7 linked regions of the Homo sapiens genome follow. The protein of the gene in region 7 purifies or fractionates together with the protein of the main gene of each other region. This does not show direct contact. Each region holds a gene or a part of one and is shown on either strand. Other genes may lie near its edges. The genes, in order: EIF2A, ETF1, SAR1B, ILKAP, NAA15, TOMM34 and SNRNP27.

The links.
Region 1: the proteins of SNRNP27 (region 7) and EIF2A purify together in Homo sapiens (affinity purification with mass spectrometry; 2 studies listed by BioGRID and IntAct, with this or other methods). This does not show direct contact.
Region 2: the proteins of SNRNP27 (region 7) and ETF1 purify together in Homo sapiens (affinity purification with mass spectrometry; 2 studies listed by BioGRID and IntAct, with this or other methods). This does not show direct contact.
Region 3: the proteins of SNRNP27 (region 7) and SAR1B purify together in Homo sapiens (affinity purification with mass spectrometry; 2 studies listed by BioGRID and IntAct, with this or other methods). This does not show direct contact.
Region 4: the proteins of SNRNP27 (region 7) and ILKAP purify together in Homo sapiens (affinity purification with mass spectrometry; 2 studies listed by BioGRID and IntAct, with this or other methods). This does not show direct contact.
Region 5: the proteins of SNRNP27 (region 7) and NAA15 purify together in Homo sapiens (affinity purification with mass spectrometry; 2 studies listed by BioGRID and IntAct, with this or other methods). This does not show direct contact.
Region 6: the proteins of SNRNP27 (region 7) and TOMM34 purify together in Homo sapiens (affinity purification with mass spectrometry; 2 studies listed by BioGRID and IntAct, with this or other methods). This does not show direct contact.

What each region holds. Positions count from the first base shown.
Region 1 is NC_000003.12:150,549,787-150,553,286, forward strand, and holds part of EIF2A (eukaryotic translation initiation factor 2A), read left to right. Parts: intron 1-2,569; coding exon 2,570-2,639; intron 2,640-3,500. UniProt on the Homo sapiens protein: Functions in the early steps of protein synthesis of a small number of specific mRNAs. Acts by directing the binding of methionyl-tRNAi to 40S ribosomal subunits.
Region 2 is NC_000005.10:138,533,237-138,536,736, reverse strand, and holds part of ETF1 (eukaryotic peptide chain release factor subunit 1), read left to right. Parts: intron 1-3,500. UniProt on the Homo sapiens protein: Component of the eRF1-eRF3-GTP ternary complex, a ternary complex that mediates translation termination in response to the termination codons. The eRF1-eRF3-GTP complex binds to a stop codon in the ribosomal A-site.
Region 3 is NC_000005.10:134,612,329-134,615,828, reverse strand, and holds part of SAR1B (small COPII coat GTPase SAR1B), read left to right. Parts: intron 1-2,796; exon of another isoform or gene 2,797-2,815; intron 2,816-3,072; coding exon 3,073-3,138; intron 3,139-3,500. UniProt on the Homo sapiens protein: Small GTPase that cycles between an active GTP-bound and an inactive GDP-bound state and mainly functions in vesicle-mediated endoplasmic reticulum (ER) to Golgi transport.
Region 4 is NC_000002.12:238,186,696-238,190,195, forward strand, and holds part of ILKAP (integrin-linked kinase-associated serine/threonine phosphatase 2C), read right to left. Parts: intron 3,278-3,500; coding exon 3,158-3,277; intron 1,563-3,157; coding exon 1,436-1,562; intron 1-1,435. UniProt on the Homo sapiens protein: Protein phosphatase that may play a role in regulation of cell cycle progression via dephosphorylation of its substrates whose appropriate phosphorylation states might be crucial for cell proliferation.
Region 5 is NC_000004.12:139,388,505-139,391,884, forward strand, and holds the end of NAA15 (N-alpha-acetyltransferase 15, NatA auxiliary subunit), read left to right. Parts: 3' UTR 1-2,880; downstream 2,881-3,380. UniProt on the Homo sapiens protein: Auxillary subunit of N-terminal acetyltransferase complexes which display alpha (N-terminal) acetyltransferase (NAT) activity. The NAT activity may be important for vascular, hematopoietic and neuronal growth and development.
Region 6 is NC_000020.11:44,943,398-44,946,897, forward strand, and holds part of TOMM34 (mitochondrial import receptor subunit TOM34), read right to left. Parts: intron 183-3,500; coding exon 56-182; exon of another isoform or gene 55-55; intron 1-54. UniProt on the Homo sapiens protein: Plays a role in the import of cytosolically synthesized preproteins into mitochondria. Binds the mature portion of precursor proteins. Interacts with cellular components, and possesses weak ATPase activity.
Region 7 is NC_000002.12:69,900,456-69,903,955, forward strand, and holds part of SNRNP27 (U4/U6.U5 small nuclear ribonucleoprotein 27 kDa protein), read left to right. Parts: intron 1-2,725; coding exon 2,726-2,790; intron 2,791-3,500. UniProt on the Homo sapiens protein: May play a role in mRNA splicing.

The sequences.
Region 1 (3,500 bases), on a different chromosome or scaffold from region 7:
GGTTGCTAGGCACATAAAACAGCAATGTCCATTACGTGAAATTCACATTGTCTAATCTGCTTGACCAGTTGAAGTCACAGAGATAATTTATTCAAAATTGAGTGATTTTCCTAAACTAATACATAGTTCAGTGAATGTAAGAGTTGGGAAAAGTATCGTATTTTAAAGATGACTACACCCCTGCCATGGGATCCTTGTTTATTGAAGCCCTGTGTTTTTCTCTCTCTAACTCAGGCCTAGAGCAATAAATAGTATATGAATGTCTAAAAAGGCTAGTAAGCTTGGAAAAGATTATGTAGATGTTTAATGTATTTCACACAGCTACTGTGTGAAACTGGCGTTTATTTGTTGTCTTAAAAGAACTGCTTGCATTCTAGATTTTTCTTTCTGCTAGAACATATTGCCAATCCCATTTGATTGAAGAGGGAAATCACTAAAAACAGGGAATCACACAAACTCAGAATACACTATATTAAGCTAACTACGCATTGTATTTAGTTTCACAGATACTTGTAACTAAAAAGGATTCCTTGTTAGAAAGTTACATGTAGAAAAAAATTGTTTCAGTATTGAGAAGTTTTTTAGTCCCTATTTATTTTTGCTTTTATTAGTTTAAAACAGTTTATGTTCTGTTATGGACCTGATTTTGTGTTTTTTTCTAATAAACTTTGTATCACAGCTTATCAGGAGTAAATTAAACTGTATATGCTTTTATTAAATTTATTTAATAGAAAAACTAATTAAATCTAGCAAGGCATCTTAGAAGTACAAAATGTCAGTTTGGGCCAGGTGGCTTACAGCTGTAATCCCAGCACTTTGGAAGGCTGAGGGAAGCAGATTGGATTGCTTGAGCTGAGGAGTTTAAGACCAGCCTAGGCAATGTAGTGAAACCTCGTCTCTACAAGAAATATAAAACTTAACATGGCTTGGTGGTGGGTGACATGATCATGGTTCACTGTGGCCTTGACTTCCCAAGTCCAGGTGATCCTCCTGCCTCAGCCGTGCGAATAGCTGGGACTACAGGCATGTGCCACCGTGCCCAGCTAATTTTTGTAGAGACAGCATCTCCCTATGTTGCCCAGGCTGGTCTTGAATTCCTGGGCTCAAGCCATCTGCCTGCCTCGGCCTCCCAAAGTACTGGGATTACAGGTGTGAGCCACCACGCCTAGCCTGAGCCCTATTTTGTTTTCCAGCTTCATCATCCTCTAGCCACACAGGCCTTCTTTCCATCCCCTTGACGCTCTGTCGTTTTTCTTTCCATGGGGTTTTTGCACTTGTTAACTGTTCTCCTTGCTTGTTAACTGCCATTGATCCTTTACATCTCAGTATACAAAACACTTAAGGATGCTTTCCCTAACCTTCCATTTTTAGGTTAAAACTCTCTTTTATACCCTCAGTGGTACCATATACCTTTCCTTTGAAGGACTAAACACAGGTATATGATTCCGTATATTTGGCCAATTATTTGATTACTGTTTGCAAAGTTCAATGAGGTCAGAGACAAGGCTGATTTTCTTTCCTATTATTTCGCCAATGTTCAACACAGGGCCTAGGAGGTAGTTTGTTCGTTTTTTTCCCACTAAGCATTTGTTGACTAAATGAATCTATTTATTTGGTTCAGCTTTAGAAGCATTTAATTCAACCATTTAAAAAAGTATAGTCTAGGCTAGGTGCGGTGGCTCACACCTGTAATCTCAGCACTTTGTGAGGCTGAGGAGGGAGGATTGCCTTAGCCCAGGAGTTAGAGATCAGCCTGGGCAACAGTGAGACTCTGTCTCTACAAAAAAAAAAAATAGCCAAGCAGGGTGGCACATGCCTGTAGTCCCAGCTACTTGGGAAACTGAGCCAGGAGCATCACTTAAGTCCAGGAGTTTGAAGTTGCAGTGAGCCTTGATCATGCCACTGTACTCCAGCCTGGGTGACAGCAAGACCCTGTCTCAAAAAAATAAATAAATTTAAACATAGAAATAAGAAGTATAGTCTAGTTCTGTAGATGATTATTTAATCTTGAACTTTGTTTCCACTTAATTTTTTAGGCTATTACTGTCATTGGGGCCTTAATAAATGAATATGTCTCATTCCACTTGTTCTCTTAGTTTGATAAATTGTGAATATATTAATATTGCCTTATATTTCTAAAAACTTTAAACATATACTTTTTTTATTACTTTATATAAAGCATACAGCTATCCTGTGTTCTGATATTTCCATTTTACAGATTAGGTCACAGATTCAGAGGTGGTAACGTATCCAAGGTTCCACAGGCAGTTATAAACTTAGGTCAGGCTCTGAATTCATGTCCTCTTTACCACAAGACAGCTGCCTTTCTTTCAGTGGTGACAAAGTTTCGAGTTTTATTTAAAAAGTTACGTATTTCTCAGCAATTATATGATTTTATGTAACAGAGTAAGAAAATATGCCCTTTTGTTGCTAATATTCTATAGTTCAATGAAATATTTAATGATTTCATTAATATTTTGACTAAAGCTGCTTTTTTAAAAAACACATTTGTGTTAACTGAGTCTTTATTAACAAAGTAATTGTGGTTCTTTTTATTTTACTTCTTTAGTCCGAGGATCAGAAGGACTGTACATGGTGAATGGACCACCACATTTTACAGAAAGCACAGTGTTTCCAAGGTATGATTTATTTTGTTAAGTAATGTTATAGGGAACATACAGTACAATCTAAAATGGTTTTGTTGGTGGTGTATTTTGAACAAGAAAGGAAAAGAACAGATGAACTCATTTTTATTGTATAATATTTACCGAAGATGAAAAGAATACATATTCTCTATCAAGGAAAATGATCTTCAGATCTGAAAATAGTAACTTAAGCCTATTTATAAGGTAGGGGGAACAATACTAAGAAAAAGTGTAGACACTAGTGTAATTGAATACAAGCCTTTATTTTACAAGAGTTGTATCTTAAGGAATGAGAAAAACTTGCAAATTTGATAGCCAAATCATGGCCAGTAATCTTAGTGAAATCATAATGAAAAAGATATTAAAAAGGGAGGACATATATATGCACATAGTATATAGCTAGCTAGATTAATTTTTTTTTCCCCAAAGAAACAATGGACAAGTAAACCAAAAACTAGTTAAAAATGCTTATCTATAGGGGGAGAGAGTTACAGAATGCGGGGGAGAGAGTTACAGGATGCAGGGGACACATCTGTGAAAGAGCTTTGGTATAGTTTTGACTTTGGACCATATAATTGTTTTAAATTTAAAAATTAAATTAAAAGCTGGGCCCGGTGGCTCACGCCTGTAATCCCAGCACTATGGGAGGCCAAGGCAGGCCAGATCACCTGAGGTCAGGAGTTCAAGACCAGCCTGGCCAACATGGCAAAACCCCATCTCGGCTAAAAATACAAAAATTAGCCGGGTGTGGGGGCAGGCGCCTGTAATCCCAGCTACTCTACTCGGGAGGCTGATGCAGCAGAATCGCTTGAAACCCGGAGGTGGAGGTTGCAGTGAGCCAAAATCAGGGCATTG
Region 2 (3,500 bases), on a different chromosome or scaffold from region 7:
TCTTCGATCCTATTTGAAGAGTAGGAAGGAGAAATTTGCCTTCCCACTGCTGGATCTGTTCAACTAAGAGGCTGGACAGTAGAAATTACTTCTCAGTCCAGCCTATTCTCTAGGGCTCTCAGAATAGAACCTTCTCCTAGGATACATTCTGTAGGTGTCTTTTAATTCTTCAGCAGCCTACTATCTTAGTGAGGGGGAGAAGGAATTAGGAAGGTTCAGGCTTTTTTTCCCCGGCAGGTTAGAAATTGAGAGTCTGAGGTTTCTCACTGGGTACTGTCCTCAGAGAGTATGATGAAGCTCCCTCTGATACGGTTTTATCTTATGCCATTTGACACACATCCTTGCCCACTCTCTTTACTCTTCTCACAATCCTTTCAGGTTCAGAGGACTTGACATTTTCAGGTGCCTGGCAACTGGTTCTTATCATACAGATAGCTCTGCATGTTGAGTTTGTACTCTTGTTTTCACATTTTCATTTGTTCTTCTAAGATCTCCTTTAGAAGAATGATCATAGTCAAAATAAAAGGTTCTTTTTGTTTTCCTGCTGTGTCTGTGACCTTATAAACTAGATTTTCCTCCAAAATACACATCTGGGTATATGAATATGAAGCCAGAAATGCACTTTTACTATTAACCAGTAAGCTAATGGGCTTCACCAAACATCTGCTGTGAGTTGGGCACTAGACATTTTGGAAGAAATATGTAATAAAATGAAAACATGATCTGCCACACAACCATGGAATGATAATATAAACCATTTTCAACTCCATATTAGTGAGTACAGAATAACACAGTACATGTTGAAGGGGATTTAGTATAAGCAGATGATTAAGGTCTTTTTTTTTTTTTTTTTTTTTTTTTTGAGGCGGAGTCTCGCTTTCCCGCCCAGGCTTGAGTGCAGTGGTGCGATCTCAGCTTACTGCAACCTCCACCTCCCAGGTTCAGCTCAGCCTCCCGAGTAGCTGGGATTACAGGTGTGTCCCACCAAGCCTGGCTAATTTTTTCTTTTTTTTTTTTTGAGACGGTCTTGCTCTCTTGCCCAGGCTGGAGTGCAGTGGCGTGATCTCAGCTCACTGCAACCTCCACCTCCCAGGTTCAAGCGATTCTCCTGCCTCAGCCTCCCAAGTATCTGAGATTACAGGCACCCGCCACCACAGCCGGCTAATTTTTGCATTTTTTAGTAGAGACAGAGTTTTGCCATGTTGGCAAAGCTGGTCTCGAACTCCTGACCTCAGGTGATCCGCCCGCCTCGGCCTCCCAAAGTGCTGGGATTACAGGCGTGAGCCACCGCGCCTGGCCGAAATTCATCTTTTATTAAAAGGAGGTTGCAGTGAGCCGAGATCGTGCCACTGCACTCCAGCCTGGGCAACATAGCCAGTCTCTGTCTCAAAAAAAAAAGCCAATTATTCATCCATGGGCTTCAGTTTCCCCATCTGCTTCATGGGGGAACTAATGCTTTCTTCTTCTTCTTTAAAAAAGGTAACATTGGCTGGGTATGGTTGCTCATGCCTGTAATCCCAGTACTTTGGGAGGTCTAGGCAGGTAGATCACTGAGGTAAGGAGTTCAAGACCAGCCTGGCCAACATGGTGAAAACCTGTCTCTACTAAAAATAAAAAAATTAGTTGGGTGTGTTGGCACATGCCTGTAATCCCAGCTACTCGGGAGGCTGAGGCAAGAGAATCGCTTGAACCCAAGAGGCGGAAGTTGCAGTGAGCCAATACCAGCCTGGGCTATAGAGGGAGACTCTGTCTCAAAAAAAAAAAAAAAAAAGAAACTAGTTTTCTGAGGATGAGTAAGCATACATTTGACCCCCCCCCTTATAACCTTATAACAGCTCTGTGAGGAAAGCTATTATTGCCATTTCATGGATGAAGAAATTAAAGTACATACAGGGAGTAAATAGCTGCCTAATATCACAGCCTTTAGTAAGGGTCAGTGCCAGATTCTGTACTCACTTTTCTGATTTCAAAGCCTGTGGTGCTAATTTGTACAACACTACCTTGCCCTTTGGCAAGTATTTCTTTTGCTGAATAGAGACGTCTCCCATTCCCTTCTGAAAGGAAGACTCTTGTCCATGGAGATTTGTAATTTAGTAGGAGGAGCAGGTGTGCTGAGACTCAGGTGCAAAGATTTAAAAGAAAACAGACATGCTATTTCCACCCTAGGAAGAACTTGGATACTGAACATGTTTATTCTTGACGAGCATCAGTGGAGAGAGAAATAACTTGTTGCAAAATCCCTCCCCAGGAGCTCATTCGTATATTAGAAAGATCTAAGTAGTGAAGTAATGAATCCCGAACACTGGTTGTGATTGCAGTCTCTTGCTTTGCACTGTTGTAAGAACACTAGAGAAATTTTCCAGCTTCAAAGCTGCTTCCTGGTGGAATATTCCACTGGGTTTGTGAAGATCTTTTAATTTTTCTTTTTAAGACTAATAATGCCTATCATTGTAGAAAAAGTGTACACACTCTACCAGATGTGTACATTTTTGTTTTAGATGACTGAGTAAATCTTTGTTCTCTGGGGGACAGAAAGCTAAAATGAACCTTTGTGAACTTTATTCTGAAAATGTTTGGACATCTGAGTTATTCTGTACCCTAGGGTGGAGGTTGCTGTAATGTCTCAGTAAGTTCCGGTCTTGGTATTTCTCCCATTTGGTAATAGCATCTGACTCTAAGGTCAATTGCATAAACTAATTTCAGGTAACTTTCCTAGTCCCTTTGAAGGGTAACAGAATCATCCCTCCTAATTTGATAGTCTAACTAAACCTTTTATAAAAGGCAGCCCCATCCACCTCCTAACATGCCTCATAGATGGTAGTAGCAGAGGGAGTGGGGTGGCATTAATGTGAGGATCAACAAAATTAAAATGACACTTCATAAGGGTTGGTTTTGTTTAGTGCTGGTTTTCTTAAGGTAAACGCCTAATATAGTATGATGGTTTGAACTTTTAGGTGCAGTGAAAGATGGGGACAGTTAGTCAATTTAAGGCACATTAGTTCCTCTCCAAGGACTGACAATTTGTTGTTGGTTTTTGTTTTGTTTTGTTTTTGAGGTGGAGTCTTGCTCTGTCTCCAGGCTGGAGTGCAGTGGTGCGATCTTGGCTCACCGCAACCACTGCCTCCCAGGTTTAAGCGATTCTTCTGCCTCAGACTCCCAAGTAACTGGTACTACAGGTGCGTGCCACCACATCCAGCTAAGTTTTGTATTTTTAGTAGAGACAGGGTTTCACCATGTTGGCCAGGATGGTCTCGATCTCTTGACCTCGTGATCCGCCTGCCTCGGCCTCTCAAAGTGCTGGGATTACAGGCGTGAGCCACTGTGCCCGGCCAGATTTTTTTATTGGTATTTTATTTGGTAGTTTAGAATAAATCTCTGGTGTTTGCTTAAAAAAGAGTATATAGAGATGATGGTAGGAATTGGCCATTTATTCATTTTTCAAATGTTTGAGCACCACTATGTGCTAAAATGATTTTTGCCCTCAGGATGCTTATATACAC
Region 3 (3,500 bases), on a different chromosome or scaffold from region 7:
TTGTTATTTTTTGAGACGGAGTCTTGCTCTGTCGCCCAGGCTAGAGTGCAGTGGTGCAATCTCGGCTCACTGCAAGCTCCGCCTCCCGCGTTCATGCCATTCTCCTGCCTCAGCCTCCTGAGTAGCTGGGACTACAGGCGCCTGCCACCACGCCCAGCTAATTTTTTGTATTTTTTTAGTAGAGACGGGGTTTCACCGTGTTAGCCAGGATGGTCTCGATCTCCTGACCTCGTGACCCACCCGCCTCAGCCTCCCAAAGTGCTGGGATTACAGGCGTGAGCCACCGCCCCCGGCCCAGAATTTCTTCTTATTTTCAGACAGAATCTCTCTCTGTTGCCCAGGCTGGAGTGCAATGGCGCAATCTCGGCTCACTGCAACCTCCGCCTCCTGGGTTCAAGTGATTCTCCTGCCTCAGCCTCCTGAGTAGCTGGGATTACAGGCACCTGCCACCATGCCTGGGTAATTTTTTTTTTTTTTTTTTGAGATGGAGTCTCGCTCTGTTCCCCAGGCTGGAGTGCAGTGGGGCAATCTCGGCTCATTGCAACCTCTGCCGCCAGGGTTCAAGCGATTCTCCTGCCTCAGCCTCCCTGGTAGCTGGGATTTCAGGCACCTGCCGCTGCACCCAGCTAATTTTTTGTATTTTTAGTAGAGACGGGGTTTCACCTCGTTAGCCAGGATGGTCTCGATCTCCTGACCTCGTGATCTGCCCATCTCGGCCTCCCAAAGTGCTGGGATTACAGGCGTGAGCCACCGCGCCCGGCCCCCAGAATTTCTTAAGAAGATAAAAACTCTGGGCTAAAGTAGCTACACTAAAACTTATGTTGTCATTATGGGGCACTTGTGCTTTTGGCCATAAGTGAGTACTGGTTCTGGAATTACCCTCCCACTGTACACAACTAGAAAACCGGACAAAAAAAGATGCTACAACTGTTTTCAGACATTGGGCAACAGCTACCACAGGACTGTGATTCCTGAGAGAAAGGAAACAACTCTATTTTGGTTTTATGCCAAGAGGTAATTTTCAGACCATGGTGCAAAGAGAGGACACCCAAACATAGTCCAATAGTCTTGCTGAGTTGAGGAGATGTAGACCAGAATTTGGAAAGGCCAACAGGACTAGAATTTTTTTGCTAGGACAGAGAGGAGGGAGTACCGGAGAGGAGGGACCTCTGGAGAGAAAGGACTCTAGAAATTTACATAGCTGAATACCAATCTGTGCATGCAATGGGTAAAGCTCCAAAAGGCTAGTCAAAGAACAATTGTAAGAATGCTGTTAGCCAAATAATTACTAGAGCTCTCATGGGGCCAGGAATTGTTGTTTAATCCCATTTAGCCTTCTAACAAATGTTAAAAACTGATCTGTAAGCAAGTGAACTGTCAGAACAAAATTCAACCTTCTTCAAAAGACTACAACAAAATCCAGCACTCAATATGAAATTACTAGACATGCAAAGAAACAGGAAAGTGATTCAGTCAGTAGAAACAGACACAAGTGTGACAAAGATGATGGAATTAGCAGATTAAGACATAAGACAATCGTTATGAATGTGCTCAGGGATTTAAAGGAAAACACAAACATGAGGAAAGAAATGGAAGATATAACACAGAATCAAATGAAACTTCTAGAAATGAAAAATACAGTATTTGAAATGAAAATTTCTTTTTTTTCTTTCTTTCTTTTTTTTAATAGAGACAGGGTCTCCCTGGGTTGCCCAGGCTGGTCTCGAACTCCTGGGCTCAAGTGATTCTCCCACCTTGGCCTCCCAAAGTCTGGGCTTACAGGTGTGAGCTACCATGCCCAGCCTGAAATGGAAATTTCACTGGATAGGATTAATAGTAAATTAGATAGTGCCAGTACTGCAGAAAGAAAGACCACTAAACTTAACTCAATGCAACAGAAACTCCAGAATGAAGCACAGAGAGAAAAGTGACTGAAAGCAAAATAAACAGAGCCTCAATGACTGGTGAGACAACATCAGGCAGTCTAACAAACCTGCAACTGAAGTCCCAGAAGTGGAAGGGAGGAGAAAGAAAGATAGTTATGGAAATAATGGCCACAATTTTTTATGGTAATTGTTTTTGTAATTAAAGACTGTCTTATGTCAGCCATAAGAGAAAATTATTTCACCTGTATCATTTAAGATGAATTATATGAACAATTATTAGATTGGAGCAGTTATTTGAATTCATAGCAAATAATTGTCTGAAGAGATTAACATTTTCAGCAGGAAGAATAGAGAAGGAAAAATAAATGTTGGATTTGTGGTGAGTAGAATACTAGAACTGAATATTACAATTATTTGTTATATTGTCAGTATGAATTGGTGTATATCTAATTACAAAAAAGTATTATTGTACCAGTTTGTAAATGTTTGATTTGACCTTATTTGCAATAAAAGTAAATCAAACATTAAGTAGTAAATATAAGCTATTGTTAGAAATGCTTGTTCCCTGGTGCTGTAAAGGATAGCACTTGAACATAAATTTAATTTCCTCAGCAAGGCCATTTTTACTTTCTGCAGAAAGGGTACACTTGCCAGCAGTTTTGCCACAAGAGTACACCGAACAAAGGAGACAGGGTCATTTATAATCTGATGCGTCCACCCTACTGCTGTGTCCGGTTTCCATTGGCTGGAATGGGACCTCACATTCTGTATTTGTCCTGATTGGCTAGCAACTTAGAACTTTTTAAAAGAGGCAAAGGCAGAGGAGAACAAAGGAAGGAGGAAGTAACTTGTGGAATGCTGAGAAAGGTAAAAACACCTTCAAATAAGGAAGAGGAACAGGCTATGACCTAATGCTTGCTTGGACCAGTGTAAGTATGCCAGGGCAAATATTTAGGCTAAATTGTGGGAGCTAAGAACATAAAGTACATTGATTTCTTTATTACGGCTGGCAGATATTTAAGAATGTTAGCACGGGTCTTTGAATCAATTTTGCTTCTAAGAGAAGTTACTATTTATTCTTAATTAGATGGGGAGGAAAGTCTTTGAAAAGGAACCTCTACTTTACTTTTTACACGATTAATGGGTTTCTAATTTTCATGTAAAAATATTTTAAAATCTTATTTAGCTTCCGAAGAACTGACCATTGCTGGCATGACGTTTACAACTTTTGATCTGGGTGGACATGTTCAAGGTAAGATTCTTTTTTTTTTTTTTTTTTTTTTTTTTTTTTTTTTTTTTTTAGACAGGCTCACTCTGTCTCCCAGGCTGGAGTGCAGTGGTGCAATCTCAGCTCACTGCAACCTCTGCCTCCTGGGTTCAAGCAATCCTCATGCCTCAGCCTCCCCAATAGCTGGGATTACAGGCATGTGCCACCGCGCCCAGCTGATTTTTGTATTCTTAGTAGAGATGGGATTTCGCCACGTTCAAGGTAAGATTCTCTTACTCTTACAGTCACTTTGTTTTATTTTAACTTAACAAAAATGTGGCCATTAGTTCTAGTGCATGAAATCTCATTCTAGTCACGCAAGGCCAGAGTAGATTTAAAATTTAGGG
Region 4 (3,500 bases), about 170 Mb from region 7:
AACTATTTCAAGGAAAAAAAAAAAACAAAAATGCCCACGAGAAATGACATTTATTCTAGAGAGCTGCTTTTCTTTCAAGTTTTTTGGAATTCCTTTTCAATTTAGGACATCCTGAGCCATGAGAAAAAAAACCTCATCTGGTTTATAACTCAGAGCTGTTCTTACTGCCTGTTATTTGCAAGGCATGATGTAGTGTTCCCAATTAAATTTACACTCAATGGATCTGCCTTCTTGGGCTCCAGAGGTCCCTTTCCTGGTTTTAATGCAAATCCCAGGCTGGGTATGGTGGCTCATGCGAGTAATCCTGGCACTTTGGGAGACCAAGGTGGGAAGATGGCTTGAGCCCAGGACTCTGAGACAAGCCTGAGCAACTTAAGGAGACACTGTCTCTACAAAAAATTCAAAAAATTAGCCGGCTGTGGTGGCACATGCCTATGGTCCCAGCTACTCAGGACGCTGAGGTGGGAGGACTGCTTGAGCCTAGGAGGTCAAGCCTGCAATGAACTATGATTGTGCCACTGTACTCCAGCCTGAGCAAGACAGCAAGACCCTGTCTCAATGGGTGTGTATCTCGTCCCCTCTACATATGATCAGCTGCTCTGCAGCAGCCATCACCTCATCTCCATGAGCAGACCTCATCTACTGGACAAACGCCATCAGCCCAAACGGCTCCAGCACACTGTATGTTAATGACCAACTGGTGTCAGTAAAGGTACGTAATGTATTTATTATGTAATTCTGAATTATGTAACCTATGTAATATGTACTATAATGTATGTTTACAGCCAACTTAATGTCCTACCTTCTGGTTTTTTTCCAGGCCCAAGAGCTTATCCAGAAGGCTTCATTTTAGTTTGTATAGTTGCAGCTAATTTTTCATTGTCTGTCTTTTCCTTGACATCATTTTGACTTTTGTTCTTCCTGGGCCCTGATTATCTGTACTAGCTCTGCTTGATCACCATTCATACTTTAATTAGTGGCTTCCAACTCTTATCTTCTAGGTCATGGATTAAAAATATTCTCTGCCAGAAGCCGCTCAGTTGCTGGTAAGGAGTAACACACGCTGCAGAGCCATGCTATGAAGCGTCATCTCCCGCTCAGCAGGGCTGCTCAACCGCGACACTACTGACATTCCAGGCTGAACAATTCTTTGTTGTGGGGCTGCCCTGTGCTTCTAAGATGTTTACCAGCATCCCTAGTCTCTACCCACCAGATGCCAGTAACAACTCCCTCCCGCAGTTGTGACAAAAATGTACCCAAACACTGACAAATGTCCCCTGGGCGGGGAGCAAAATCAACCCCAGCTGAGAATCACTGATGTACAATCAAGTGATGTGTTAGATTTTCTAGTAAATACAAACTAGCCAGTCCAAAATGCCAGTCAGAACCCAGGAGATGTTAATGCCAGCCGGGCTTCCTACCACATGAGACTCACATGAGGGACGATGGGGGCCTACACTCCTCGGTGATGTCGTTCAGGATGACGTGGGCATCCTGCATCTCCTCCCTCTCACCCTTCCGCTCAGCCACATAGCCCTTCAGACCAAAGATCACCGAAGAGGCTAAGGAAAAGAGAACAAAAGAGCCAATACAAAACTGTGCCCAACCCTCTGGAAACCCTAGTCCCAGAGCAAATGAGAGGGAACTATGACTGTCTGACTCAGCAATATCCTAATGGCGCAAACAAATAAGCAATACCCCTTAAGGCATCTCCCCCAGCTGCAAGTCTATAACTCAAATCGGAGCACTGTTGGACAGGGTGAGCTCTAAGAGGTTGCACAGGGACACAAAAGAGGAGTCAGTGAGCACAAAACAACTCTGTCTAGGGTGTAAGTCAAAGCATCAGGGCAAGGGATGTGCTGCCATCCCAGAGAAGTGAGATTCAAATCAGGCAAAAGGATCATGTGCAAATTAGTCTTGTGATAATTGAATAAGGACAAATGCAAGTCAGGAGAGTTTATCTCAAAAGCCCTTAAGATGCCCTGAAAATATGTATTTCCATGCTCAAGGCTGGTGAAGAATTTGAACAAACAGTAAGATCAGCTGCTTTTACTTCAACTGAGGAAGAAAAGGATAAAAGATTCCAATGCAGGCAGAGATCTATTTACATTTAATGGTTAGACTCATTTAAGCTTATTTTCTGATACCTAATGCCAGACAAATAATAAAATGAACACTGTGAAGAGCTGTCTTCTGGGAAGTGACAAGCTAAGTTGAAGATGACATCTTCCCAGCAAAGCTACAAGTGGGTTTTTTCACATACCTCTGCCTGCATCATACAGCTTTCACTGAGGTAATCTGTGACAAAGGACAATGCAGTCAATGAAAATCCCACAGCTCGGGCCAGGCACGGTTGCTCACGCCTGTAATCCCAGCACTCTGGGAAGCCGAGGCGGGCAGATCACAAAGTCAGGAGATCGAGAGCATCCTGGCTAACATGGTGAAACCCCGTCTCTACTAAAAATACAAAAAACTAGCCAGGCGTGGTGGCAGGCGTCTGTAGTCCCAGCTACTCGGGAGGCTGAGGTAGAATGGTATGAACCCGGGAGGCGGAGCTTGCAGTGAGCCGAGATGGTGCCACTCCAGCCTGGGCGACAGAGCGAGACTCTGTCTCAAAAAAAAGAGAAAAAAAGAAAATCCCACAGCTCAAGAATACTTTAGTACCACAACTGAAGTATTCTCTTTAGTTAATACTTTTCGTTTTCTTCCTCACTAACTTTGACAAGTTACACAACTGACTACAAATTTCAACGGCTTTTTCCAGGCTTAGGGAAGCTGCCTACTAAGCTAAATCACGTAATTCAAAGCACTAATTGACAAACTGCAAACAAAGATTGGAAGTCAGAGAGAGACTAGGTGGTCAAAAAACTAACCATTCACTGCAGAAGGCTAAGAAAAAAACCACCTGTATTTTTTAACTCTTGAGGAACAAATGTAGGTTTCCTATCTGATCAAAGGTAGGATCAGAGATAGATGTACATGAAAAGTAGGAGAAAGCACAGAGAAACTTGGAAATTCATTTGCAAAAAGGGAACCCTACTTATTTCTTAAATACAGACATAAAAAGAAAGTATTATTAGAAAGCTGAAACTGGTTTTGCTCTGGGTTGTTTTAAAATATGAAGTCTAATACATTTGTTTTCAAATTGTCTGAAAACCTTTACAAACTTTCTTTTCCACAAGCTCTTCACTGCCATTCTTCTCTTCCTCGGAGGTTTTTCTCTTTGCTCCTTTCCCTTCAGTCTTTACCATCTGGGATATTGATGTGGCAAGAGAACCTGGAAATAAAGTAAAAGCCAGACAGAAACACAGCTGTAGACTGTTGGAAAAAGTCACTAGTAGACTGGGCTTCATCCTAGCACTCAAAGACAAGGTCATTTGAAGCAAGGACTGGCAGACACAGGCAGACCCAGGAGTTGTGTCTTCATGGTTGGCGGGGAGGGGGAGGGGGGTCCCACAGTGAGAGAACATAAAGTTAAGATCCAGGCCCTGAGTCAAACT
Region 5 (3,380 bases), on a different chromosome or scaffold from region 7:
AGCACAAAGAGTTGTTGGGGCTTTAGCATCTGACTGATTTTGTTACGGGGTTGATTCTGACCATAGGAAGTATGCAATGTGAATCACTATTTACAGAGAAACCTACAACAGATGCTTGATGTTGTAGAAACTGGGACATATAGATACCAAGCAAAATTATAAGAAACCTATAAGGTGTTCAATACGCTTGTGTTTCCAAAATTCACTGTACATGATCAGTTTGGTGTTCTTGTACCACAGTTTTTAACTGAAGGAACCAGTTGTAACAGTCTCAATTTTAACTAAAACTTGAAGAACTAAAACAACAATGCAAACCTTTCAGCATTGTTTGGCCAAACTTGTTAAAACTGTAATGCAAGAACCAAATGCACTGTGATGTGGCACCAACTAATTAGCAAGCATGAATTTTTCACCCAAGAGTGAAAAAAGGAAAATCTACCATGGCTTGAAGTTAAAGAGCAGAACTCCTGACTACCATTCTATGACTGATCAAAAGACTAATAGTTAAAAACCTCAGCAGGCCTTGTTCACGATATGCAGAAAAAAAAGTGCTGCAGTTTAGATACCTCTGGAATTTTTCCACAGTGTCACAGGTTTGTAATACTTGAAGCCCTACATTTCTAAGAATATATTTCTTGCTCAGTTGTTTCAGGCAAGCCCAAGACTTTGTAATTTTTAAAGGGCCCAAGATTTTTTTTTTTTTTTTTTTTTTCAAATAACAGACCAGCTTCTTTTTCTTGCAGTTACAGATGTAATTTCCTTTTTGTTGTCAAACATAAGGTACCAAATATGATGCAATAAATTGTTTTGAAAAACAGTTGTGTGAATATTTCAACTAATCTGTGTTGGGCTTCTGTGAAATACACAGGTGGAAACAGAGGTGCAAGCCAGAGGCAATGTAATATGCTGTAAGGCTAGTGCAGATGGGAGCTTTTTAGAAGGGGCTAAGTGCTGGTGTCAGGGAAATTCCATAATGAAGTAGAATGCTGCTCCTGCATTAAGATTTCATTGAGGGCAAGGCTGGTGGCAGGTACTATGAATGTAATTCATAATTTAAAAGGAAAACTAAAAACTATTTTGATTTGGGAAAATGAGCCTTAATTTGTTAAACCTATACACTGAGAACTAGCCTCAGGCTTAATATTCTCATTGCATTTGCAAGATCTGAGCAAATAAGATTAAGTAAAACAAATCAATTGTATATATAATTGACCTTTTTGTGGAACATGTAGTTTATAGAAAGTATACTCTAAAGGGAATTTGCCGAAGACCTTTTACTGATTGAACAGTTGTGCTACAATCAACTTTTCATAGTACATGACCTGCATTCCACATCTCAGTCTAACAGTTTAGTAGTGATGTAAAGAGAAGTACAAACCGAACTCCAGTGCTTTGTTATGTTTTATTAACTGGCCCTGTCTCAGGAACATCTTAACAGATGGCAAAAAAACAAAAACTTTTTTTCAACTCCTATGAGTGGCAACTGAAGTTCTTATTGTTGGGAAAGAACACTAGTCCTACCTCTGCCACTAATGAGGTGTTTGGAGGAGGTACCAGCCATATAATAGGGGGTGTATGTGTGAATTTTGTTTAAACTCTACTGTATATTGAAATGAAATTCATTTATTTGTCTTGACAATGTTCAAATGATGTAGATTGTCTTAGAATGAATATTCATAAGTACTCAGAACTCTTAAGATGCAGATGCCACCCGTGAGGAGCTAAATTCCTAATGTGTATTGTATTCCAACCCAATTTTACTGGAACTATTGAATAAATCTTTTATTTTCTTTCAGGTTTACTTGATAGTGGATACATTGGTGTCAGAGGACCTTGACTGGGTTCATTTTATGTCCAGACATCACCCCTGAAACACTGTACTGTACTATCTTGCTCTGAGTAGTATCAACTGGATCGTCTCATATTTGCCTCATTCATCCTATTAATTTCAAATGATACTGTGGGGGAAAAACAGGGTTAGAAAAACAAGTGGAAAAAATGGAGTGATGTTGTAATCTAAACAAGTGCCTTATGTTTATTGCTAAGAACTGGTGTTACCAACCCTTTTGAGAAGAAAGGGTCTCTTGACCTGTATTAACATAGGAAAGTAAAGTTCTTTTTGTTTTTCTTTATATTCAGCTACTCTTGTCATTTCTCGTTGAAAAACTAAAATCTGACTAGGTTAGTTTACTCAGCTTTAATTAGATAGTTGAGTCATATATTTTCAACATTTTTCTGTATCGTATTTATTATGCACAAAAATAAAGTGTGATCTCTAATAGCATGGCTAAAGGTAATGCCAATATTAGTGAATAGCTTTGCTGTGGGCTTTATCAGGCCCTTGTTTTTCACAGTGTTGTTTGTACTCCATGGTGTATTGCTATTAGAGCTGTGAAATGAAAGCTGTGACTTTATGAAGAGATCAAAAAAAGTGTGGTCCAGATTCAGGTAGGTTGTGGTAAGTTCAGGGAAGTCTTGTATGATTTCTAAGAATATTTCAGTTACCATGTATAGTATTTGGGAAAAGCTGTAATGTAAAATATTGGACTTTGTTGCAAGATAGGTATATACTTGTGTCAGATAATTAAAGCCTTAAATTTTGAAATGAATCTTTGAGATTTCAAAGAAAGACTGACCTTTCAAATAGAAGGCGGTCTTTCTATTCTAGCTAATGCCCCACTTCTTTAAGTTATAAACAAAGTTTCATGATACCATTCTGCTATCATCTAAACTTTGCTGAACTCTACTGCCAACCTACATTAAAAACAAAGTCCCACGAAATGGCTGTGTTACACCATAGTGAGCAGAAACTTAAATTTTGTTCTAATTTTGATGGTTGAAAAATTTCAACCTGTAGCAATAAAACATTTTTGGAAAAGATTACTGAATTGCACTTTTACCTTTTAGTATGCAATCTGAGATCGTTGTTGAAATTAAAATATTGGTAATGTACAGGAGGTTCTGGAGAAAATAATGCTGGTGTTTTTTGTTTTGTTTTGTTTTTGAGACGGAGTTTTGCTCTTGCTGCCCAGGCTGGAGTGCAATGGCGCGATCTCGGCTCACCGCAACCTCAGCCTCCTGGGTAGCTGGGGCTACAGGCATGCGTCACCACGTCCGGCTAATTTTGTATTTTTAGTAGAGACGAGGTTTCTCCATGTTGATCAGGCTGGTCTCTAACTCCCGACCTGAGGTGATCCGCCCACCTCGGCCTCCCAAGGTGCTGGAATTACAGGTGTGAGCCACCGCACCCAGCCAATAATGCTGTTTTAATAAATCAGAAGAGTATCTTTTATGTACTGTCTTGGTTATATACTATATTCAAACCTGCTGCCTCCATCAGGACACACCTCCTCTTTTGTTGTTGCTGTTTTGTTATAGAG
Region 6 (3,500 bases), on a different chromosome or scaffold from region 7:
CTGGCATAAATCTCTGTAGCTATGTTGGGACCTTTTGGCCAGGATTTTTTTTTACCTTGAGTGCTTTGTGGGCTTGAGCCCGTCTGTAGAATGCCTTCACGTTCTTTCCATCCAGCTTGAGGGCTTCTGTGCAGTCCTTCACTGCTTCTGTGTACTGCTTCAGGACCAAATAGCAGAGTGCTCTGAAGGGAAAGACCATTTCAGAGGTTTCAGTCACGTCTTATGGGCCACCCACATGCCACGCAGTAGTTTGAGAAGTGATCTCCAATTTGCTGAACACCTACTCTGTGCTGGTTACTTTATGTCTTCTTAAATCCTCACAACAATCCTAGCCCTTTTCATGGATGAAACATGCTGGCTCAGAAGGGTAAAGGAACTTGGGCCAGGTACCGCCAGTATTAAGGGGCAGACCCAGGATTCAAATAGGCGGGCGTTCGTTCATGGGACTCCAGATCCTGATCTCATCTAGTTCTATCATGCTGTACTGCGCTCTCCTATACTGAGCTCTTTCAAGCAAAGAAAAGGTTTCCTGAAACTTTTCCCTTGACAGATTAAAAAATTATCTACTTTAAGGGGGAAAAAAAAACCCAACAACTACTGAACTCTAATGATATAATGCTGACATGGGGTGAAATGTAAAGACGTTTGCAATTTACTTTTAAGTGCATCAAACACAATAATACAGACCAACAGATGGCTAAATAGTGATAAGGCAATGTAATAATACTAATTGTAGAATTTAGATGGTAGGTCTATGGGTGTTCAATGTACAAATCTTTCAACTTTCCTATATTTTGAACATTTTCATAATAAAATGTTGGAAAAAAGTTATGTGCATCCATACAATATATTCTGCATCTGTGGGTTCAAAAAAGTGCATGTGTGTATATATCTTCCTCATTCAGATCTAGTCCTTCTCTCCAAAGACAGTCACTAAAAACAAAACAGTCAGATGTCTGGGCGCTCATTACATAAGTTCATCTGTTCCACCTCACTGTTTTCAGTGGGTGCAGGGTATTCACTAAGTTGGATGTAGCATAATTTATTTTACCAATTTCCTATCAAGAGGTATTTTTCATTGTTTCCAGTTTGTAAATAAGTGATGCCATGATGAACATCCTTGTGCAAGGGACTGCTGTATCCAAAGATACATGCATTTTAAAACCTGACTGGCCAGGTGCAGTGGCTCATGCTTATAATCCCAGCACTTTGGGAGGCCAAGGTGGGAAGGTCACTTGAGCCCAGGAGTTTGAGACCAGCCTGGGCAACATAGGGAGACCCCATCTCTTAAACAAAACAAAACAAAAAAAGAAATAAAATCTGATTGTTACTGCCAAAATGCTTTCCAAAAAAGCTGAATAGTTATTGACAGAGCCTATTTTCCTACAACTGTACCAACTTTGGGTCTTAAATTTTCATGTATGCCAATATGGAATAAAACACTATCTCACTGCCTTAGCTGCTTAGTTGTGGGTAAAGCTGAACATCTTTAATAAGGGTTTTTAATCTTTTGAAATCAAACTTCTCTAACTTTTCCTTTAACGACTTCTGTAACATTTTTTTCCCTTCACATAAGAATACCTTCCCCACTGCAAGATAGTTAATCCATGTGTTCTTCTAGAACTTAATGGTTTCGCTTTTTACATTCCAAACTGTGATCCACTCAGAACTTACTTTAAAATAAGAAGCAAGGTAGGATTCAAGTTTAACTCTAACCTGGCCAACCCAACACCTCTTATTAAATAATCTCTCTTTGCCCCAGACTTTATTATACACCAGATTCTCTCATGTCGTTGTTCTCATTTTTTTCTGACTTATCATGAATTTAAAGAAGAAAATTCTACTAGTCCTTTGTGATTGCATGGAATTCATAAATTAACGGAGAGAAAAATCTTCTTGTAACAACTTAAAAGACAGGCACAAATTCTTTGGCAATCCTCCACTGAGAGGCGGAGGTGTATCTGCTCTCTCTCTTTGAATTCGGGCAGGCTCTGTGACTGCTCTGACCAACAGAGGACAGAGGAAGGGACACGATGTGACTTCCAAGGTTAGGTCATAATAGGCCTTGCAGCTTCCACCTTGGTCTCTGGAAACACTCGCTCTTGGAGCCTTGAACTGACAGGGAAGAAGCCAACTACTCTGAGGCCACCACGCTCTCAGGAAGCTCACAGCAGCACACATGAAAAGGCTGCTAAGAAAGTGGAAAGAGGTGCCAGCTTGCTCTAGCAGTTCCATCACCCAGCCATTTGAGTCAGGCAGCCCAGCTGCCAGACATTCGAGGAAGAAGGCTTTAGAGGATTCCAGCCCCAGCTACCATCTTGCTGACCCTGCATGAGAGACCCCAAATGAGAACTGCCCTTCCCTAATTCCTGACTCCACAAATTACAAGCAAAATAAAATGGTTGTTGTAAATCACCAAGTTTTAGAATAGTAGCCCGTTTTAAACTTTGAACACAGAAGAATTCCTTTTTTTTTTTGGAGACAGGGTCTCACTCTGTCACCCAGGCTGGAGTGCAGTGGCATGATAACAGCTCACTGCAACCTCCGCCTCCTGGGTTCAAGCGATTCTCCTACTTCAGCCTCCCGAGTAGCTGGGATTACAGGTGCATGCCACCATGCCCAGCTAACTTTTGTATTTTTTGGTAGAGATGGGGTTTCACCATGTTGGCCAGCCTGGTCTCAAACTCCTAACCTCAAGCAATCTGCCCACCTCAGCCTCCCAAAGTGCTGGGATTACAGGCATGAGCCACCTCTAAACATAGAGGAATTCTAAGGAAATTAAAGTTTCCTCCCAATGGGCTTGGCAATTTAAAGAAATAGCCAAGTGTCTGGGAAGCAGAGGAACCACCGTGTATCGTGACTTCAGAATAGAAATGTGATTAATAGGGTCATGTGAGACTTCTAAAGACTATATTTAAGATGAACAAAATGCATAACTTCAGGCAATAAAATAAACCCCCTTGACTTTTGGTAAATGAAGTAACTGTATCCAGTCAGAAGGGTTTTAATTACAAAGGGGTTGGGAAATAACACAAGTGAGTGAAAGGGAAATAAGCTTTGGAGTCACAAAGATCTGGCTTAAATCTCAGCCACCATGTACTAGTTGTTTAACTTTGTGGTCACTAATTCATCTTTCTGAGCCTGATTAGGTAACACAGGACAATGATCTAAGCTGAAGAACTGTTGTGAGTACAAGTGAGATTCTTATGACAGCTGTTTCAGGGCTGGCAAGTTGTAGGTGCTATGCACTCAGATGTCACCTGCACAAAGGGAGCCAAAGTAAGCCAAAGCCTGGGCATTGTGTCATTCAGATGGGCGTACATGAGGTGGAGCATTAGACTATGTCCAAGACGTTCCAGGACATGATAAAATGTTAGCCACAATGGCTGAAAGTTGTTTTGTCATTAGTCCTCTAGATTAAATTATAAATCCAATGCAATCACAACCAAAAGCTGTCCAACAAGACATTTTTTGGAATTTGCCAAAATGATCCGAAGCTT
Region 7 (3,500 bases):
CAAGTAATTTGTTCAGGACTTACCTTCCACCTCCAAAAAAATACATGAAAATAGGAATAGAAAAGTAAGACCAAATACATTTATTTTAGCCCCACTTCAAATATACTGTTCGTCTGTGTATGCCTTTTGGCCAGTGGGTCAGAATCGGTCTTTGCCCTGACACCAATATCTAATTAAGTACACTACACAGATAGGCTAATCTTGCATAAGTAGTAATGGGAGAGGGAGGAGGTGGGGGTCACTTGTATGTGTCACGACGTTAGCTGATGATACTCATCTAAGTCATTTTCTGAATATCTGGGAGTGCAGTGACCTAGGATGTGAGAATGCAAAGGTGACTCTCAGACATATCCCTCCATCAAGAAGCTTGCAGTCTCATAGGGAAAATAACTTTATGATGTACATCATGGTTTTATAGGGTAGAAAATAGAGGGTACTGGGCTGGGTGCAGTGGCTCATGCCTGTAATCCCAGCACTTTGGGAGGCCGAGGCGGGGGATCACGAGGTCAAGAGGTCAAGACCATCCTGGCCAACATGATGAAACCCCATGTCTACTAAAAATACAAAAATTAGCTGGGCGTAGTGGTGCATGCCTGTAGTCCCAGCTATTCGATAGGCTGAGGCAGGAGAATCACTTAAACCCGACAGGCGGAGGTTGCAGTGAGCCGAGATTGCGCCACTGCACTCTAGCCTAGTGGCAGAGCAAGTCTCCATTTCAAAAAAAAAAAAGAAAGAAAGAAAGAAATAGAGGGTACTGTGAGGAAGGCACAGTTAACATTTTTCAGCAGTTAGAGAAGAGGGCACTTCCTGGCACCTGGAATGTTTGAATTGGGCCTTGAACAATGGGTAATAACCAGATAGTTCAAGTTGGAGGCAGGGAAGGCAATTCAGGCATGAGGAACAACATGGGGGAAAGTGGGTATGTTGAGTTGACTTGGCTGATCAGAAGACCTGAACAAGAATTTGTGAAAAAGAGGATGGGTGCTACATTCAGAAAGGTCAAGATGGAGTAACACATAACAACCTAGCATTTGTGTCTGTTATTCTGTTCTGATTCTTGATTTAAAGATCAAAATTGGGCTGGGCACAACGGCTCATGCCTGGGATTCCAGCACTTTGGAAGACCAACACAGCAGAATTGCTTGAGACCAGGAGTTCAAGACCAGCCTGGGCAACATAGTGAGATCCCATCTCTACAGAAAAAAAAAATTAAAAATTAGCCCAGCTTGGTGGCATGTGCCTGTAGTCCCAGCTACTCGGGAGGCTGAGGCAGGAAGATCACTTGAGCCCAGGAGTTTGAGGCTGCAGTGAGCTATGATCACGCCACTGCACTCCAACCTGGCGACAGTGAGGCCCTGTGTCTAAAAAATAATAATTTTTAAAATGAACAAAAAATTGCAAGGGTTGTACAAGAAATGGGATTTAGATGAATGGCAACCATTCCAGCCATGATATGAGAATATTATTAGCTAAGGTTGTAAGTTAAATTTTGTGTGAATGTGAGTTTTTCTGGAGATTATACCTTTTATCTGGTTTCAAGGTATTCTTTGACCAGAAAAGATTAGATTCTGCTACCCTACTTTCTCAGCATGCTTTGCACATAGTACATACACTGTGAATGTTTGTTGGTTTGAATATTAATTGCTTATACACGATTGTAAAAATGTGAGCAGAGAGTTATACCACTTGGGAGCTCATAGGATCTGGAAATTATCTCTGCCTCATTGGACTCTCCTCCTTCCTCCTTCCTCCTTCCTCCTCCCTCCTTCCTCCTCCCTTCTTTCTTCTCCTTCCTCCTTCCTTCTTTCTTCTCCTTCCTCCTCCTCCTTCCTCCTTCCTCCTCCTTCTTCCTCCTCCTCCTCCTTCCTCTACTTCCGCTGCTGCTGCTGCTGCTCTTGCTGCTGCTTCTGTTTGTGCTGCTTCTCCTGCTGCTGCTCCTGCTTCTTCTGGTTCTGCTTCTGCGTCTGCTTCTTCTGCTGCTCCTTCTGCTGCTCTTGCTTCTTCTTCGGCTTCTGCTGCTGCTGTTTCTGTTTCCTCTGCTGCTGCTGCTGCTTGTGCTGCTGCTGCTCTAGCTTCTGCTTCTGCTTCTGCTGCTTCTGCTGCTCCTTCTGCTGCTTTTGCTTCTTCTGCTTCTGCTGCTTGTGTTTCTGCTTCTTCTGCTGCTTGTGCTGCTGCTGCTCTTGCTTCTTTTGCTTCTGCTTCTTCTGCTGCTCCTTCTGCTGCTCCTTCTGCTGCTCTTGCTTCTTCTTCTGCTTCTGCTGCTGCTGTTTCAGTTTCTTCTGCTGCTGCTGCTTCTGTTTATTCTGCTACTGCTGCTTCTGCTTCTTTTCTTCTTCTGCTTTTCTTCTGCTTCTTCCCCTTCCGCTGCTGCCGCTGCCGCTTCTTCTGCTGCTTCTCCTTCTCCTCCTCCCCCTCGGCCCCCGCTTCTCCCCTACTTCCCTCTTCCTTCCTCCTTCTTCCTTTCTCCTCCTTTCTTCTTCTTCTTTTTTTTTTTTTTTTTTTTTTGAGACTGGATCATGCTCAGTTGCCCAGGCTGGAGTGCATTGGTGTGATTATGGCTACTTGCAGTCCCAAACTCCTGGGCTCAAGCAATCCTCCCACCTTAGCCTTCCGCCAAGTAGCTGGGAGTACAGGTACATGCCACTGCCACCACACCTGCTTTCATGTATCCTGATTTAATGTATCCTTCCTGTTTTTTGTCTGTTTGTTTATTGTTTTTCTTCAGGGTAAGAAGGTGGATGGCTCTGTAAATGCCTATGCCATAAATGTCTCTCAGAAGAGGAAGTACAGGTATGCATAGCCCCCATTATTATGTTTGAACTAATAAATCAGTTTTTTACTTCAAACTTTATTATGAGATAATCATGTTTGTAGGAAATGTAGCAGTTTTCCATACTGTTCCTTGTTTGAATGAAATATTCATTGCTTATATTCTGGTGTGTTAAAATTGTTTTCCCATTTACATGTAAGCTAATAGCTATTAGAGAGAGGGTAGTTGGCTTAAATATTTTAGGACTATAGATAGTAATTTCCTCAGAAAAGCATAATTTCAAGTCTATGGGCTTTGATTTCATTATAATTTAGGTATAAGATAGATCCCTCCTAAACTAGATTGATTATGTAAGGATTTCAACTGTAAATATATTCTTCTGTTAAGTATAGGCATATTTTATTTGTACCACAGTTTTGGAGCGAACCAATCCATACATGAAATCTCACTGAATTCTTAATGAATGAAAAAGTCAAGATATTTTCAAACATTGCCTTTCTCTCTAACTTTGTCGCTGATAAAAGATTAATAGTCCAGTTAATTTAGATTATGAATCATGTGATTGAAAATGCTATAAGCTAAGGTACTAGAATCATCTTGGACAGTCTTTTGTAAAATTACCTTCAAATAAGGTCTTAGGGGGAGAATCATTACAGTGTGCAATTGAATTTGCTCAATGGGTGCCTGTTTTGGAACTCTTTTCTATTTCTAAATTATATGTTTCGTGTTA